2 linked regions of the Homo sapiens genome follow. The protein of the gene in region 2 purifies or fractionates together with the protein of the main gene of each other region. This does not show direct contact. Each region holds a gene or a part of one and is shown on either strand. Other genes may lie near its edges.

The links.
Region 1: the proteins of NMNAT2 (region 2) and ALDH3B1 purify together in Homo sapiens (affinity purification with mass spectrometry; one large-scale study listed by BioGRID and IntAct). This does not show direct contact.

The regions. Positions count from the first base shown.
Region 1 is NC_000011.10:68,016,827-68,020,326, forward strand, and holds part of ALDH3B1 (aldehyde dehydrogenase family 3 member B1), read left to right. Parts: intron 1-1,700; coding exon 1,701-1,811; intron 1,812-1,946; coding exon 1,947-2,067; intron 2,068-2,343; coding exon 2,344-2,429; intron 2,430-2,888; coding exon 2,889-2,970; intron 2,971-3,500. UniProt on the Homo sapiens protein: Oxidizes medium and long chain saturated and unsaturated fatty aldehydes generated in the plasma membrane into non-toxic fatty acids. May have a protective role against the cytotoxicity induced by lipid peroxidation.
Region 2 is NC_000001.11:183,251,059-183,254,380, forward strand, and holds part of NMNAT2 (nicotinamide/nicotinic acid mononucleotide adenylyltransferase 2), read right to left. Parts: intron 1,686-3,322; coding exon 1,583-1,685; 3' UTR 1-1,582.

The sequences.
Region 1 (3,500 bases), on a different chromosome or scaffold from region 2:
GACTTGACCTGACGTCTGTCTGGTCCCTTTTCTCCCTTCGGCTCTGATTCCACCTCCTGCCTTCCCATCCCAGCTGCAGGAGCGGGGCCCTACAAAGGCAGCAGTAGCCCAGAACATTCAACCTGGTCCCTCCCTCTGGACCTGGTCACCCCCCTGTCCCCACCCTCAGCAGGCAGCATCTGCCCAGCGTCACGTGCACCCTCTCAGTTAACCCTTTGGTGAATCTGGTTGGGCAACCACACCCAGTGGCCCCCAGAAGAGGCTCAGAGAGAGTGTGTTCTTGCCCAAGGGCATGCAGCCAGGAAGAGCAGAGCCAGAGTTTGAACCTGGCTCAAAATAGCCCAGTCTCCCAAAGTCAGGTCCCAGGTGACCTAGGAGGTGTGGCGGGCAGGCCACCAGGCTCATGGGGCCAGAGCACAGGCTGTGGGAAAGTCCGTGTGGAAGGCACCTTCCCCCAGCCTCAGTGGCTAGGAGGTGCCAGTGGGCGTGGCGTCTTCCTCCCTCTTGGGGCTCAGCTGTAGCCCTGGCCTTGCCCCTGGTTCGCTGAGTGACCTCAGGCAGGGCATCTCCTTCTCTGGGCTTCGCTGGTCCTCTGGCCCATCCAGCACCCCACTGGCCCGTCCCCCTCTGCCCTGACCCGGGAGAGCCTGCACCCCATAACCTCAGGCGCTGCCTCAGCCAGGGAGCCAGCCTGGCCCCAGTGTCCCTGACCTGTTCTCCAGCGGCCTGCAGCCTGCTGCCTGGCTGGTCTCTCCTCCCTTGGGGCGCAGAGGGCAGGGAGCACTGGCTAGCCGAGAGCAGGACAATGTCCCTATTGATTCGGGTCTCCTCACTCCTGCTTAGAAGCCTGACAGTGGCCCTGGCCCCTGGGCTGTGGGAACTGACAGCATTTACCTAGGGGTGGCTGTGCCTGTGTCTCCTGTGGACCAATCTCCACCCTGCTCTTTGGGAGACTGAGGTGGGAGGATTGTTTGAGGCCAGGAGTTCAAGACCTACCTAGGCAACACAGCAAGGCACTCTGCAAAAAATCAAAACAAACTTTTTTTGAAATTAAAAAAAAACAAAACCCTAAGTCAGATCCCATCCCTGCTCTTCTCAGGAGTCCTTGCCTGGCTGCCTGGCCCCCTCACCTTGCCCACTCTGCTTCTTGCTAAACAGGAGCAGAGCAAGCGCACAGCCACCTCGGGGCCTTTGCAGCCGCCAGGGCCTCTGCCCAAAGTATGCCGCCTCCCAGTACCCACGACTTGCTTGTTCCTTGACTTCAGGTCACTGCTCCAATGTGACCGCCGCCTGGAGACCTGCACTGACCGCTTTGTAAAAACAGCACACACACACATGCTCATGTGGATGTATACATGTGCACACCTGTGCACGCCCACAGCCACACGCTCCAGCAGTCTCCACCCCCACCCTGCTCCATGATTTCCCTAGCACAGCCACGTCCTAATGGAGCCGTCAGCGTTCTCACTTTCACATGGAACGACTGCCCCCTGCAAGGTCGGCCTCAGGGCCGGTCCCTCTGTTTGGCACAGAGACAGCACCTCACACAGGAAGCACGCACTGAACATGGAGTGAGTGAGTGAACGAATGAATGAAAATGAATGAATGAGTTGTGGAAGCAGGCCCTGCCTGGAGGAGGCTGTGCCCTCCTGCCAACTCTGGGAATCCTGGCCCACCCTGACCCCACCCACTTCCTGCAGTCAGCCTTCGAGTCGGAGGTGTCTGAGGTTGCCATCAGCCAGGGCGAGGTCACCCTGGCCCTCAGGAACCTCCGGGCCTGGATGAAGGACGAGCGTGTGCCCAAGAACCTGGTGAGCCGGCCGGGCTGAGGCGGGCAGGGGGCTCAGGGGATATTTGCTCCCACAGGGTGGCCCCTCTGGGTGGGAGCTGGCTGCTGAGGGGCCGGGGTGCTGAGCACTTAATTTCATCCCCGGCTCCCGGCCCAGGCCACGCAGCTGGACTCCGCCTTCATCCGGAAGGAGCCCTTTGGCCTGGTCCTCATCATTGCGCCCTGGAACTATCCGCTGAACCTGACGCTGGTGCCCCTCGTGGGAGCCCTCGCTGCAGGTGAGAGCTGGGCCTGCCCCTTCCGGTCACCCTTCTCCGCTCGAGGCCTCAGGGCCACCCATGGATCCCAGGAGGACATGGGAGAACTGGCCCAGGTGGCAAAGAGGACTGTCTGGTCCACCGTCCCCGGGCTGTGTGGCCCTGGGCCCGTCATGTTACCTCTCTGAACCAGGTTCTGCATCTGAAAGTGGGTGAGGCTGATGCCTGCCCTGCAGGTGTGTGGAGACCAGGAGCTGGCTACGCCTCCTCCAGCTCTCTCCCTGCACTGCCCTGCAGGGAACTGTGTGGTGCTGAAGCCATCGGAGATTAGCAAGAACGTCGAGAAGATCCTGGCCGAGGTGCTGCCCCAATACGTGGACCAGGTGAGCAGGGCTGCCGGGCAGGTAGAGCGGGAACAGGCAAGGCTCAAGGGCTGGGCAGCCCCTGGCATGGAAGGGCCTGTCAGTCAGACCCGAGTCCCCACCTCAATCCTGCCTCTTCTGAGTTGTGTAAACTTGACCAAGTCACCGCCCCTGTCAGCCTCAGTTTCCCTCTGAGGAGCAGCGAGGGCAGCCTGTTGCCCAGGGGTTCCGTGTCTGCCTCCACCTGGCCCTGGCATCAGCCCCTCCAGCGCCAGCTGGACTCCAAGCTGGGCCTGCCAATGCCAGCCAACCTTGGGGAGCTCCCTTCTCCCCACTTTGCCTCCACCCAACCCTCCTAGAGCCCTGGCTGGGTCAGGCCAGGCGGGGTGGAGGCAGGGCAGGGTCCAGGCAGGGCGGGCTGCTCCCTTGTGTTCTCGGAGCTGGGGTCCCAGAAGGAGCCTCACCCATCCCGCCTTGCAGAGCTGCTTTGCTGTGGTGCTGGGCGGGCCCCAGGAGACGGGGCAGCTGCTAGAGCACAGGTTCGACTACATCTTCTTCACAGGTGAGGCCGGGACGAGGGTCGGGACAGGCTGGGGTCGGGGAGGACAGCTGCTCAGGGGTCCTGTCCCTAACTCTGGGAGTCCACAGGGAGACTGAATTCTCCTCTCTCTCTCTCTCTGGACCAGGCTGGGAGCAGTCCTGGACCCCCAGGACCCCTTAGGAAGGGATGGAGTCCCATGTCCAGGGCCAGCCCACTGTGCCAACCACAGCGTCAGGAACCATAGCCTCTGCCCCCACTGTCCCCAGACCCTCATACGTGACCCTGCTGCCCCCCAGGCTCTTAGACACCACCCTACTGGTGCCCACAGCCCTCTCTGCAGGCAGATGAGGGACTGGGCCTCAGTGTCCTGCCCAGGGTCACCCTGCTGGCCAGGATGGGGACAGGCTGGAATGTGCACACAAGCCCTTGGAGAAATCCACGCCAGAGGTCACTTTTTTTTTCTTTTTTTTTGAGACAGAGTCTTGCTCTGTCACCCAGGCAGTGGCACAATCTTGGCACAATCTTGGCTCACTGCAACCTCTGCGCCTCCT
Region 2 (3,322 bases):
ACACGCATGAGACCCTAGTAACCAGAAGCAAAGCTGGCAAAACTGTCTGCAGGAACAGAGAGGAAGGTAGAAAATTAGAGAAAAAAGGAGTGAAGCAACTTAGTGGCTCCTGACCCCTCCCAGATCTCCCTTCTGGGAACCCACTCCCCTATTAGGGAGATTTTCTCAGACAGTTCCTGCAGCTCCCAGGCTCTGCAGGGGCTAGAACCAACCACAGAAACAAGACCAAGGCACTGCTTCTCAAGAAGAAACTGACCTCATGCACTGTCTGAGTTACCTCAGCTAGAGAGGGTGAAAATCATCAGTTATCATCAGGGCAACAAATTGCTTTCTCCTAGTTCATCCTGGACTTACAATATGAAAGAGACATTTCCCAGCCCAACAGACAATACATAATTCCAATTAGCAAAGACCTCCAGGGTTGAGTGGACTCCTAGTGTTTTTTTGTTTTGTTTTGTTTTTTTATGACACGACTGCACGATGTGGATCTGGTCCTGCCTATGTGGTTGTTCTCAGGTACAGGAATGTGTCTAAGCATGGCCTCCAAAGGTCCCTTGGAAACCCCTGGCTGGTAGGGAACCCGCACTGTGCCATCAGCTACAGTCCACAAAGGTAAATGAACAGATGCCACCAGGAAATGAGGATGGACTGGCTCTGTGTGATCATAAGCTCAGAGCATCAGGGAAATGGTCATTTGAAACTAAGAAAACAGATTCAAATTATTCTGAGAAAACCGACTATTCACAGACTCGTGTCCCAGGTTTCAGAACCCGAAAATCTCACTCCTGATCAAAGGTTGCTGCTGCTGCTGCTGCTGCTGCTACTGCTATATGTGTGTGTGTATGTGCGTGCGCGGGTGCACACGCATGTGTGCGTGTGTGTGTGTGTGCGTGTGTGTGGTGCTGAAGAAGTGGAGGTTGCTTGGCCTTCTCTACTGGGTGTGGCCCTGATGAACTCACTGAGTGCTGAGGCTGGCTACAATGTCCTATCAGAGGGGAAGTAATACCACAGGAGCACATCAAGACTACAAACATAAAGAACCATGGACACTGATTTCATCCAAGTTCTACAGGGAGTGAACAAAGAAAAATAAATAAACAAAAGAAAGAAAAGAAAAATAGCCCTTTGTAGTAAAGGGCATGCTGGGAAGGCAAGAGCCAGAGCCGCCTCCCCAGAGCATGCTGGGAGGAGGGGCACCAGAGCCGCCTCTCTAGAGCATGCTGGGAGGATGGGCACCAGAGCCGCCTCCCCAGAGCGTGCTGGGAGGATGGGCACCAGAGCCGCCTCTCTAGAGCATGCTGGGAGACGGACACCAGTACATCTCCAAGGACTGCACTTCCCCCGACTCCCACCCCATTCCCTCACCCACCCCCAACCCGGAGACTAGAGGAAAGTCTGTCCAAAGATGACTGTGGAATAGGGAATGCCATGGTTCTCTGCAGGTCCCCCACACTATGGGGGGTTAAGTCAGCAAGTAGGGAAAACAGTCAAGACGAGGAGATGGAGAAACAGAGAGGCAGGAGAGAAACAGGGGGCTGACAAAGATGGAGGGGCCATTGTGTTGCCGGAGGACGAGGGGCTGCTAGCCGGAGGCATTGATGTACAGCTGGCTTTTGAGGATGTAGTCGATGACCGGCTGGGACAGGTAATCCACAACATGGCCGTCCCCATGCTGCAGGGCCAGCCTGCACAAGAAGAGATGACAATCAGATGGACATCCACACCCAAAGCAAGTCAGGAGGACTGGCATGCCCCTGTCTCCCCAGCACCCCATTTGTAGCCTTTTCTCAGGTTGAGTAAATAGTTCTGTATTAGGAAAGGCCCTCTTGCCTCCACAACTCCTTCCCCACCTTGGTGACATCATTCATCGTGGTTCTGCCACTTCCTAGGTGAGAGGCCTTGGGAAAGTTATTTAAGCCCCTCTGTTCTTCAGTTTTTTTCCTGTAAAATGAGGGTAATATCTGGGCCCCTCTCATTTAGTTATTCAAAGGATTAAATGAGTCATTATGCAAAGCACTTAGAAGAGTGCCAGACACACAGTGGGCATCTAATGTATTCACTATTCTTTTTTCTCAAATAAATTGTATTGTGTATATTTAAGTCATACAATCTGATGTTGTAAGATACACATATATTATCATCATATAATATAGTATATCTATGTTATATTACATATTTATTATATATTTTATAATTTATATATTATACTATATTATATTATTTATATAATAGTGTTAATATTATATTATATTATATTATTTATATAAGTGTTAATATTATATTATTTATATAATATAGTTTAATGGTTACTGTAGTGGACCAAATTAATATTCATATATCCATCATCTCACTCAGATATGTATTTGTTCTTCTTGTGGCGAGAATAGCTATAATCTACTAATTTAGCAAAAACCCTAAATATAATACACTATTATTAGCTGTCATCCTCATGTCACACATTAGATCTTTCAACTTGTTTGTCCTACATATTTGCTACTTTGTATCCTTTGACCTGTATCTCACCACTTTCTGCCCTCCACACTTGACCCTGGTAATCATGTTTTATTCTCTATCTGTATGTTTAAGATTCCATATATATTCCTACATATTTGCTGCTTTGTATCCTTTGATCTATATCTCCCCACTTTCAGCCCTCCACACTTGACCCTGGTAATCATTGTTTTATTCTCTATCTGTGTATTTAAGATTCCACATATAAGTGAAATCATGCAATATTTTTATTTCTGTGTCTGGCTTATGTCACTTGGCAGAATGTCTTCCAGGTCTAGCCAAGTTGTGGCAAGTGGTAGGATCTCCTTTTTTAAGTCGAATAATGTTCCACTTCCGTGTGTGTGTGTGTGTGTGTGTGTGTGTGTGTGTGTGTGTATGTGTGTGTGTAAGAACACATTTTCTTTATCTATTCATCCATTGATGGACGTCTAGGTTGTTTCCACATCTTGGCTACTGTGAATAATGCTACAATGAACTTGGAAATGCAGATACCTTTACAAGGTGGTGATTTCATTTTCTTTGGGTATATACCCAGAAGAGGGATTGCTGGGTCATATGACAGTTCCGTTTTTAATCTCTTTAGGAACCTCTATTCTGTTTTCTATAACGGTTGTACCAATCTACATTCCCACCAACAGTGTACAAGGGTTCCCTTTCTCCACACCCTCATCGACATTTGTTATCTCTTATCTTTTTGATAATAGCTATTCTAATAGGTGTGAGGTAGAATCTCATAATGCCTTTAATTTTTATTTCCCTGGTGATTAGTAATGTTGCGCATCTTTTTATGCACCTGTTAGCAATTTTTATG